3 linked regions of the Homo sapiens genome follow. The protein of the gene in region 2 interacts with the protein of the main gene of each other region in a pairwise test. Each region holds a gene or a part of one and is shown on either strand. Other genes may lie near its edges.

Region 1 (3,796 bases), on a different chromosome or scaffold from region 2:
ACAGCTGTTTCATCTATAAAATGGGCTGATAAAATTCCATCTGAAGACCAGGACCGAACCAGCCTTGTTCTTGACACCCCTCCCAGTTCTACTACACGCACTCCCATGAGGCTTTCAAATGATACCCTCATTATCATAAAGAGAAGGTGCGCTCTTACCTTAATGCAAGCTATCCCCAAATCAGAGTCTGCTAAATAGCAAGTGAGTTGTACAGTATTCCAGGGCTCTAATATGTAACTATTTAATTACAAGTGGAAAAAAAAAAACGATTAGAAGAGCTATTTTTTAATGAGCCCCAGTGACTTTTCAGTAGCTTTTGGGAGAGGAAGATTCAAAGCTTGGATTAATCCACATTCTGAGCCAAGCGCAGTGGCTCATGCCTGTAATGCCAGGACTTTGGGAGGCAGAGGAGTTCGAGACCAGCCTGGGCAAAATGGTGAAACTCCCCGTTTCTACAAAAAATTTTAAAAAATTAACCAGGCATGGTGGCGCACATCTGTGGTCCCAGCTACTCAGGAGGCTGACAGAACAAGACCCTGTCTCAAAAAAAAAAAAGAAGAAAGAAAGAAAGAAAAGAAAAGAAATAAAAGAAAAAAAAAAGAGGAGTGTTCTGGCTGGGCAGAGTATACACACTTTATGACTGTCCACCATGTTTCCAAAGAAGCCAGTGTGATAAAAGATTACACATTGGTCAAATTTATAACAATGGCAACCTCTTTCCTGAGTTCAACAAAAATTTAGTGCAAAGCTAAACAAGGCTTCTCCAAATCCCTCCACAAAGTTTTGTAATCATAAAAGCGACAGAAAATATAGAATGGAAGACGCTGGTGTCTCATTTGCTATTTGAACAACAAAGCCATCCCACTTCCCAAACTGATTACCAGTGCGGCGGGTTAGGAATCACTTAATTTCTTCCTGCTGTGGAGAGGCAGGAAAGCCGAGAAAACCAGTAAATTATCTTCAAACGCTTCTAGTCGCCAAGAATCTTTACATTTTAAAAGGAACTTCGTCCACACGAAAGGTCCGACTCAACCCTTCCCAGAGAAAATGACCACTACACACTTTTAACTAGAACACAGGGTGACTGGACTGTTGTTTATGTGTTTGCTTTTACAAGTTCATACAGGTTCAACTGGTAAGTTTCCAGATGGATTTTGTTTTGAGACAATAAAATTCAATGTTCTAAAGCAAACCACACACACACACACAACATTCCTGATGAGATACATCTGGAATTTCTTTATTATTATTAGAACTCGGGTCCTGCTCTTAGGAAGCAGGCTTTCAGGTTTCTCTAAGTTTGCGCAGGTATCCAGTGCGCAGTGGATCTGGGACTGGAAGCCGAAAGTCAGTAAACATTGATGGGCTGAAGGGAATCGAGAAGTTGCGCTGGCGACAGCTGCTACTCTGGATTTCGTAGTGATCACAGGCACGGGTCCAAGGGGTGCCGAACCAGGGACCCCAGAGAGGCAAACATAGGTGGGGACGGCTCGGGGACACGTTCCTTCGCTGGCCTCCAGGCAGCCCCGCAGGTGCAGGCCGCCACTGGCGGGCCCGGGAGCGCCAGAGGACCCGGCCAGGCCCCTGCCCGGAGGAGGGAGGGGGAGGGGAAAGGGACTCCGGGCAGGAGCCATTTAAACTCTGCGAGGCGCGGGGAACCGCCAGGATCACACGCCCACGCCGGTCCCGGCGCCCAGGCCCGGCAGGTGACCCCAGCAGACGCGCGCGCCAGACCCGGGGGCGCGAGCCTACCGCCCCTCCCGCGCCCCTACCTCGACGCGCCCCGCAGGGCGGCCAGCTCCCGGCTGTCAGCGCCCGCGCCCCGCGGCCGCCTTACCTTGGTGATGACCAGCGGCTCGCCGTGCTCGCGGCCGCCCTTCAGGGTGAAGCCCCACGGGGCGCCGCCGCTCAGCTGCACCTCCACCAGGCGCCCGCCGTCCGCCGCCCGCGTCTCGGCCTCGGCCAGGCGCTCGGGCCGCGCGCGGGGCTCGGCGCCCTCCATGGCGCGACCGCTCAGCGTCCCTGGCCCGCGCCCATGCACTCCGGGCAGTCCCGGCCGTGGGATCGCAAGGGAGGCTCCGAGCGCCGCAGAACTTGCGCCGTAACTTGGAAAGAAAGTGCCGGCCCGGCGGCGGAGGGAGCCCGGAGGGCTGGCGGGGAGGGGGCGGGGCCGGGGCCGGGGCCGGGGCCGGGGCTGGCGGGGAGGGGGCGGGGCCGACGGGGGGCGGGGCGGGCGCGTTCGGGAGCTCGTACCGCGGGGCCGGTCACGGGGAGCGCGTCCAGAGGTCCAGCCCGCGGCCCGAAGGGTGAGGGACGGGGTCAGGTGCGCGCTCAGGGGCCCACGCGGCCGCTCGTACCGGGGAGAGCTGGAGAGGGGCGCGCCCCGGTTCTCTCGCCCGGTGGAGGGGAGCGGGCCGGGAGGGGCGCTCAGGCGCGCGCGCCGTTCAGCGGGTTCGGGGTCGGGGTCGAGGAGCGCGCGCCCCGGGGCTGGCGGAGCCAGCGCGGGCGAGGACGGGGGCGGAGGCCCCGGCGCCAGGTCGGGCCTTTCCTCCCGCGCCAGAGCTCTGCAGTGCTTCGAAGCTCTGGGCGCCCCCGCCCGCCGGTTGGAGGCCAGGACCGGGCAGGTGAGGCGGCAGGTGAGATGGGCGCGGGGTGGCGTGGCGGGAGTCTCCGGCCTCCTCCGTCTCGGGGCGCGCGGCCCGCCGGCGCCCACACTTTGTTCTCGCGCACCGCGGGCTGCCGCGCAGGTGAGAGCGGAAGCGCCGCGGGAGGCCCTGGTGCCCGCGCTGTGGCCGCTGCCCCGGGGCAGAGGGACCGCCCGTCCCGCGCGGCCCTGCGCGCACTCACACTCTGGACTTAGAGAGCCGGGAAGGGCGCCCCCCAGCAGCCTGAGCCGGGCGCGGGTCCGGCCTCTGGAGGGGCTTGGAAGGCGGGCGCAGAAGGACCGTGCCCCGTTTCCACGAGGGCCTTCCCACCTTCCCGCAGAGGCCTCCCACAGCCACCGCGCAGAAAGCCGTTGCGTCTAGATGCTGTCCCCACTCGCCTAGGATTGGACCACAAGGTCTTCAAGTTTCCCAGGTTTACATCCCCGAAAAGGGGAGGTGGAGGTCTGGGATTGGTGAAAGTTTGCGGACAACATGTGTGCCACCTCTTCCTGCTCGGTTTCAGTTTCCATGAAACTCTGGTCTAAAGTACCTGCATGGATAGGTATTTACATGCTTTGCAAAAAAGCTGTTTTCGTTGCTGTTTCTATACGTAGCTGAAGGCTGGTGAACACCTCTTTTCTCTAAGCAGCTCCATCCAGGCCCTTTTCAGAGGTGACGATGCTGGAGTACGCATCCAGGACAGGCCGGGAGAGCACTGGACAGAGAGTCAAGGGTCCCCGGGTCTGGGTTCTGCCACTGTCAAGCTGGGACAAGAAATCTCAGCTCTGGTCTGTTTCTTCAGAGGTCAAGTGAGAGGGGTGCATTCTGTGGAGGTGTCTCATGCAGCCGATTAAATTCAGAGTCGCAGCTCCACTGGGCACCTGTCATGGCGCTGGGCACGTGGTGACTGCCCCATAATTAACTTCTAACTACAGTCTCTGAATGCCTTTAGTTAGAAGAATGAGGCGATTTTTTCTTTTTCAAAGATTAAACGAAGGCTTAAGGAATGTGCCTCTCAGAATCAAGTCGAGTGTATCTTCACTGTGGTGATGGTCACAGGAGCTGCCAAGTTGATTAAGCTAAATTGCACAGAACTAAATGCACGTGAAACGGGAAATCTGAAAAGGCTTGGTGGATTGTATCAATGTCCA
Region 2 (3,696 bases):
GCTTTCCGTAAACATGTATATTAGGAAAGTTATTTAGAATTAGCATATCTGGAAATGATTATGATCCATTGCTCTTAACCTATTTTTTTCAAAGCTTCCTAGAAAACATAATGAGTGGGGCAATTCAATAAGGATTTAATGAATTCATACCCTATAAAGGCAACCATAGGAGAATCTTGATTTCATCTCTTCCTTGTTAGGAAAGAACTCATACACATCCCTCTTGTTTCTACCTGGCTGTCTCTTTTTAACATTCTCATTCCTCCCCTGGTTTGACAGGAGAAGCTGGGCCTGTGTAGGTCAGAGTCTTCCTTTTTCCTTCTCTTTCTGAGGAGCTGCCAGCACATTTTCCCTTCCTCCTTCATGCGCTAAGTCCTATGGGGCAGGCACCCCACGCTGGAAGGCCTCCAGGTGGGCCCTCCTGTAACTGGCAGGTAAGGCACTGTGATGCAGGCTACACTTCCAGCTAGCACTTGAACTTTCCTACAAACAGCCACCTTCTCCTCCAGCACCTTTATTAATTCTTAGGATGACGTTTTGGCTCCACCTGCTGTCTTATTTCTCAATCTGTGTAGAATTTCAGTAGCAAAGATGGGTATTGTTTATTGGACCCAAGCTTCTTTCTGAGAAGATTACCTGTCATGCCTCACAAAAGAGTTCATATTTTAAAAGTATTTTCAGGCAAAAGCTTCAGTAATCATTATAAAGTCAATCAACTTTAAGGATTCTTGCAAATATAACGGCAATGAAAAATGAAAAGGAAAATTTAACTTCAGTATTAAGAAGACTTTTCTATTTAACTCTTACCTGTATGGCAACCATCTGCACGTGTGGAATGTTTGTTACTGCACTGGTGCTTTCTGGAATTACTTCACATTTGTTGTTAGAATTTCCACAGTGCTCATCATTTCTGTTAGACTCACTCAGGACTGTATGAGCATCACCTGTGCTGCAGTGTGACTTTACAGATATTCCCAAAGAGCCCTCAAGGATCTGTGTTTCAGAGGCAATCTGGTGACCAGCAACATTCTCAGCATTCAAATGATGACCCTCAAAATAGGCAGCAGCATTTTTATCTGCTCTGTCATTGGCTACAAAAGACGGCACCACTGGTACTGATCTTGGTAGCTGATATTCAGGAGAAAGGCTGGCCAAGGGTGTATATATGCTGGTGTACTGGGGCAAACCTGGTAACACGTTTATGTATGCTGGCGGTGTCTGGGTGATATCAAATCTCTGGAAAGGAAGATACGTACAGTATCCTGTGACCAAATGGGATTGAGCCCAATAAGTTGGTTTCACATCCTCAAGAACCGGTTTGGGGGAATTACAGGAGACTCGCTTGTAATTTGCATCCTCAGAGCCTGGTTTAGGAGAATTAGAAGAGACCCCTTTGGGTTGCCCATCCTCAGAAACTTGTCTAGAAGAATTGTCGGATACTGGTTTGGCCTTCACATCTTCACAAGCTGGCTTGGGAGAATTTGCAGACACAGGTTTGGGTTTCACATTTTCAAAAGCTGGTGCTGAAGATGAATCTGACACTGGTTTAGACTTTACATCTGGTTTAAATTCCCTAGCAGCTGGATTCAGTTGTAGTTTAACTCGTACATACTCCCCTGCTTTTGAAATTTCTTCTACTTTTGTTTTAATGTTTTTCTTCTTCCTTTTTTTCTTGAGCCGTGATGCAACCTTCTTCAGTGCAATACAGTTGTCAATCACAACAAAACGAGGGCATCCCAAGAGAAAAGGTTTTAAACCTCCTGCTTTTTCTAGTATCTGTCGAGTTTCTTCTGGGAAAAACTCATATTCTGCAGAGAACATCTTGTTACTCATGTCCAAGGGACCATGTTCCTCCAAAAACTGAGAGAAGTAACTTGGAAAAAATTTACATTTACATGAGTTACTATAAGGAAGTACTTGAATATGTCTATTTGAAAAAAACTTTTATTCTCCCAAAGGAAAACACTGTTTCACTTTTCACTGATCTCAACCTTTCCTCAACAACAAATATAACAAACATAAGGTTAACTGCAATCAATGATACTATAAAGAAAATTTTGTCTACCTCCTAGAAAATGATCATTTAAAACTTTTCTGGGAGCAGGGGAAAGCAAAAGGAAATCAAAAAGTTATTTCATAACTTTCAACTATGTAATTACATAATTTATTCTAAAAACAACAACAAAAAATTTATTCAGGAAAGATAATAATGCCAATAAGAATTTTAAATAAAAAGAGAAAATCAAATCTCAAAAACAAATCCTATTTGAATTTGCGTACAGTAAATACTGAAAACTACATACTTTAGCTTTACTTTTGGATGCCTGAAGCAAATTCTAGCATACTTTAAGAAATAATAGTATAATTTTACAGTTGTTTCCACACTGTCACCCAAGAGTTCTCTGGAAATATGATTTGCTCAGCATTTCAACTCTAAAGAAAAACCATGAAGAAGGATCTAAGAGCACAGAACTAAATAGGAATGATGCAATACAGGAAAACAGAAGAAAGGGCCATATGGTGGATATGCTACTGACAGGACTTCCAGGAGAAGAGTTGGCTTTTAAATTAATACTCTATTACAGACCTCAGCCCTTGATTTATTTTCTTAAAAGGAAGGCCTCATGCACTATCTAATAACACAAAGCTCAAAATGGTAAGCTATCTGAGATTTTCCTGAATTTTTTACTTGTTTTATCCACCCCACTCAGTATCGACTTAGTAGCTCAAACTGACAAAATCAATAATCATTAGGACTCTAAATTTAATAATTAAAAATCCTCAGGGCGGGGCGAGGTGGCTCATGCCTGTAATCTCACCATTTTGGAAGGCTGAGGCAGGCAGATCACTTGAGGCCAGGAGTTGGAGACCTGCCTGGCCAACATGGTGAAACCCTTCTCTACTAAAAATACAAAAATTAGCCAGGCATGGTGGTGCAAGCCTGTAATCCCAGCTACTCGGGAGGCTGACGCATGACAATCACCTGAACCTGGGAGGCAGAGGTTGTAGTGAGCAGAGATTGCACCACTGCACTCCAGCCTGTGTGACACAGCAAGACTCTGTCTCAAAAAAAAAAAAAAAATCCTAAATTAACTTTGTGTAAAATGTGGCAAAATCTCTAAAAACAGGCACAAATTAAACAACTTCTGATCTTTAATTGGCAGCCTTAGTATAAAATAATGGTTGTAAAAATTTCAACCCACTTACTCATATAGAGTTGAACATTTTTGTTTTGGGTTCATGTCCCATAGCTTCTTATTGCGGACAACATATTCGTTACTGTGTTGGTCATAGAGAGCTTCGAATTCTTCTACATCTTGCCGAAGATGGTCAGGCACTGCAAATGGGCCTGCAGAATCTGAATTTCGATTGCTGGTAAATAACAACAAAAAACACCCAATTTTGTGGATGATAGACCTTTGGTTTATTATTTAACCAGAAGAATGTCTAATTGAAATAAACACAATAATGGCAATATATTACTCAGCTCTATGTTGCAAAAAAATAGCACCAGGGAACTTAGTGTAGAAAAGTTACCCTTCCACAGTTATAGGCGAGAAATATCATATCTGACAATCTAAGTAAGCACTTTCAATTATTTAGTCTTGCTCCAAAGAGCAAAATTCTTAAAACTCCATATTTTTAAAAAAAGTTGCATTAATTATAACTTGTTAAATGACTGAAAGACAAATGAAG
Region 3 (3,556 bases), 1.7 Mb from region 2:
CACATACTTTGATTCCTCCAGGACACAGTTGGTCTTGGGCACGACCATAGCATCACCAACCACTACCAGTGCAATCATGCACCTGCTGGTGTAGAACCACTCAGACTTCTCAAAATGCTCTCTACTCAGGTGCTTATTCCTTAGGGTAACTATACTACACAAATCCTATCTTCCATCAACAGTAGAATGAATAAAATTCTTATAATGGAATACTATACAGCGATGAAAAAGAACACATGGCTGCTACATCCAACAACATGCATGAATCCCAGACATGATGAGTAAAAGACAAACACAAAAGAAAACATGCCTTATGATTCCATCTATGTAAAGTTCAAGAAAATCAAAACCTAATCCGTAATGATAAAAGTCAGAATCGTTCCCTTCTGTCGGGGGGACATTATTGATGGGAAGGGGTACGAAGGAATCTTCCAGGCTACTGGAAACTTCTCTATCTCCATCTGGATGGTTATTACATGGGTATACATACATACACAAATCCAACCAGCCACATGACCTGAGACTTGTGCACTGTATTTATGTTACATCTCCATAAGAAGAAATGTCACATTCCTGCATCGCCTCCATAAATATCCCAAAGTGTGGAGAAATCTGGCTGTAAGAGCAGGGACTGTTTTGTTTACTCAATGCCTGCAGTACCTGGGCCAGTGCCTGAAACATATTAGGGGTATGCTTGTTGGAAATCCACTTAGAACATGGGCTTTGACCCCCTTCTCTAATGGCTGAATCCAGGAAGTATTTATTAAGAGGTTCATTATGGCTCTGGGGTTCTCAGAATCAAAGCAACAGCCTTGTTGAAAGATGCTTCCAATCTTACCAGAATTGTTGGTGAGCAAATTCAAGTTGCTGCCTGGGAAGTCCTGACTGACAGAGCAGTAGGTGACGCTGACGGAGCTGAGCCGAGACTTGGGGAACATCTGAAACTCCTGCTCAGAGCTGAGTACGCTGGGTGTGGAGGCCGGACACATGCTGTCCAGGAGGCCGCCTTTGGGGTAATTCTGTGTCTGCATTCCATAGGGCGCCTGCTCTGTGCCAAAACCTGGAACAGAACAATCGGACGGCAGAGCTCTTAAAGTCAGTGTTACCCCAGTAACTAACCCCTACGAGCAAATGACAGGTGAGCACTCCGCACACTCCAGCCCTCTGCAGAACCTCAGTGGAGACCCGGGCTTTGGTGGGGGTCTGTCACCAGGCCTTCTTCTCAAACCATTCAGCTTCTCAACCAGCAGCCCTCTGCCAAAATGACTGCAGCCTCTGCAGGCAGGACTCAATGTTCCTATTTCTACAACCCTAGTGCTTTCATGGGACCTTCAGGAAGACAGGGCTCACTGGCTCTTTTAGCTTCCGAGGAGAGTAAGGCTCAGACAGACCAAGTGACGTGTCATGTACTGTGTGATTCATAAGGGCAGAACCAGGCCATGAACCCTGTGTGCTGAGGCACAGCCCACTCTGCTTTCTGCTCCTTCATCACACCGCTCCTGTCTCTGTTCATTGCAGAATAATTTATTTTCTGGAGAGGGAAGGAAGCTCTCTGACTCTGATTCAGGTTCAGGCAGGCACAGGGTGTCCCACTGTCATGTTCAGAAAGACCTCCTGAGCAGGAAGCCCCCAGTGGGGCAGAGAGGTGGGCTTCACCGGGTCTGAATGGTGGAGCTGGGGCCAGAGAGAAAACACTGGGCCGGACCAACACCACCCAAGCCTGCTGTTCCGAGGACCCCTCCCTCGCTGGCCTGGCCAGACCCTGTGCCCTCCCCAGTATCAGCAACCAGAAGAAAGGACCCAGATTCCATGACAGCTCTTTAAGCTCCCAAGTTCAGAGCCAGTTTACAAATTGCTTTTCACGCACTCTGTGCCTGCCGCCTCTTGTTTGCTACACTAAACCAACATTACTGGTGACTGCGGTAATCAGCTCACTTCGTTCTGCTCCTTGCTCTAAGAATTGCCTGGACTAGCACTAACAGTGCTGACCTATGGAAGATCGTGTGAGCCACTTAAGCAACTGCGAAAGTTCTAGTGGCCATATTAAAAAAGCAAAAAGAAACAGGTGAAGTTAATTTTCTTATTTTACTTGGCCTCATATAGCAATTATCATTTCAATATGTAATCAATACATTAAAAATTATCAGGGAGACATTTTATATTCTCTGTTTCATACTAAGACTTCCAAATCTGGTGTGCATGACTATACTCTTCCTACACATCTCGATGTGGACCAGTCACATTTCAATGGCTTATAGCTCAACACCCACGTGTGGCCACCATAAGAGACACACAGGTCTAGGTGGCCCCTTAGGAGCCTACAGTAGAGAGATTCCAAGTCTACTGGGAAGACTGAAGACAAAGTTCTTAAGGGCAGAATCAATCGGACTGACCTAATGTATTGCTGTTAATCCAATGAGGAACGGAGGTGAGGTGTGAATTTTCTTCATATTGATCTTCTGTCTTTTCTTGGTTTTCTGAAAAGCAGACACAGGAGACGTAAGATGGCAGATGTAGGTGAAAACTACACAGAACAAATTGACTTTCTGAATTCCTGTGAGATGATAATTTTAGAATGATGAGATGCACGGAGTGCTTCACATTTAATCTCATGGTGCTCCACGTCCCTGCCTGTCTTTTTCAAAAAACGAGAGAAAGCAACCCATTTTTCCAATTACTAAAATAAATTTTCCAAAATGAATGATGTCATTGGCAACACTAAATTTTCTATCGCAAAAGGTCCAGATGGTGTATTGAATTCATTCATGCATTCAAGAAACAGTTAAGTATTTATGAAATGCCATCTGTACCAGAGGCTGCATACAGGAAATTAATAAAATGGATGGTGTCTGCCCCCGTGAAGCTTACAGTTCCACTGCTTCCAAACCTGCACGCTTCCCCAGGGTGTGGGAAGTCTCCAGGGCTGTGGGAGTCTGGGATGGGGAACACATGTGCCCAAGAACTTTGAAAGGGAAAAGGTTTGTGCACTGTGTATGCATACTTACTACGAATATATTACAAAGTGCACGTCCACCCGGAAACCCAAATACACACAAACTCACAGGCCCGAGGAATGGTAAAACAGGCCCAATTTGCCAATAAACAGATCACCAGAAACTTGGTAGAAAAGCCCTGTCCAAGTTCAGAAGAAATGAGGGTCTTTAAAAATGAGTTTCCCTGGCCCTCAGACGCCGTAACTAAAAAAAGTTAGCTGTTGAATCCTAGGTGTTTTCGAGATTCTGAGTCTACAGTTGATGCTGAAATTCAGTGTGTTTAAAATCAGTCAGGTGAGGACTAGTTCCCTGAATTCTATAAACATGCTTATTTTCTTATATTTTTTTAACCTAAATAATCCCTACTGTATTTTATTTCTTTCCCTCCCTCCCTCCCTCCCTCCCTCCCCTCCCTCCCTCCCTCCCTCCCTCCCCTCCCTCCCTCCCTCTTTCTTTCCTTCCTTCCTTCCCTCCCTCCCTCCTTCCTTCCTTCCTTCCTTCCTTCCTTCCTTCCTTCCTTCCTTCCTTCCTTCCTTCCTTCCTTCCTTCCTTCCTTTCAACAG

What was found.
Region 1: the proteins of TTC3 (region 2) and SHROOM2 interact in a two-hybrid assay, tested with the Homo sapiens proteins (one large-scale study listed by BioGRID and IntAct).
Region 3: the proteins of TTC3 (region 2) and ETS2 interact in a two-hybrid assay, tested with the Homo sapiens proteins (one large-scale study listed by BioGRID and IntAct).

What each region holds. Positions count from the first base shown.
Region 1 is NC_000023.11:9,784,752-9,788,547, reverse strand, and holds the start of SHROOM2 (protein Shroom2), read right to left. Parts: upstream 2,120-3,796; 5' UTR 2,003-2,119; coding exon 1,838-2,002; intron 1-1,837. UniProt on the Homo sapiens protein: May be involved in endothelial cell morphology changes during cell spreading. In the retinal pigment epithelium, may regulate the biogenesis of melanosomes and promote their association with the apical cell surface by inducing gamma-tubulin redistribution.
Region 2 is NC_000021.9:37,163,727-37,167,422, reverse strand, and holds part of TTC3 (E3 ubiquitin-protein ligase TTC3), read right to left. Parts: intron 3,373-3,696; coding exon 3,208-3,372; intron 1,874-3,207; coding exon 808-1,873; intron 1-807. UniProt on the Homo sapiens protein: E3 ubiquitin-protein ligase which catalyzes the formation of 'Lys-48'-polyubiquitin chains. Mediates the ubiquitination and subsequent degradation of phosphorylated Akt (AKT1, AKT2 and AKT3) in the nucleus.
Region 3 is NC_000021.9:38,815,929-38,819,484, reverse strand, and holds part of ETS2 (protein C-ets-2), read right to left. Parts: intron 2,478-3,556; coding exon 2,394-2,477; intron 1,061-2,393; coding exon 839-1,060; intron 1-838. UniProt on the Homo sapiens protein: Transcription factor activating transcription. Binds specifically the DNA GGAA/T core motif (Ets-binding site or EBS) in gene promoters and stimulates transcription.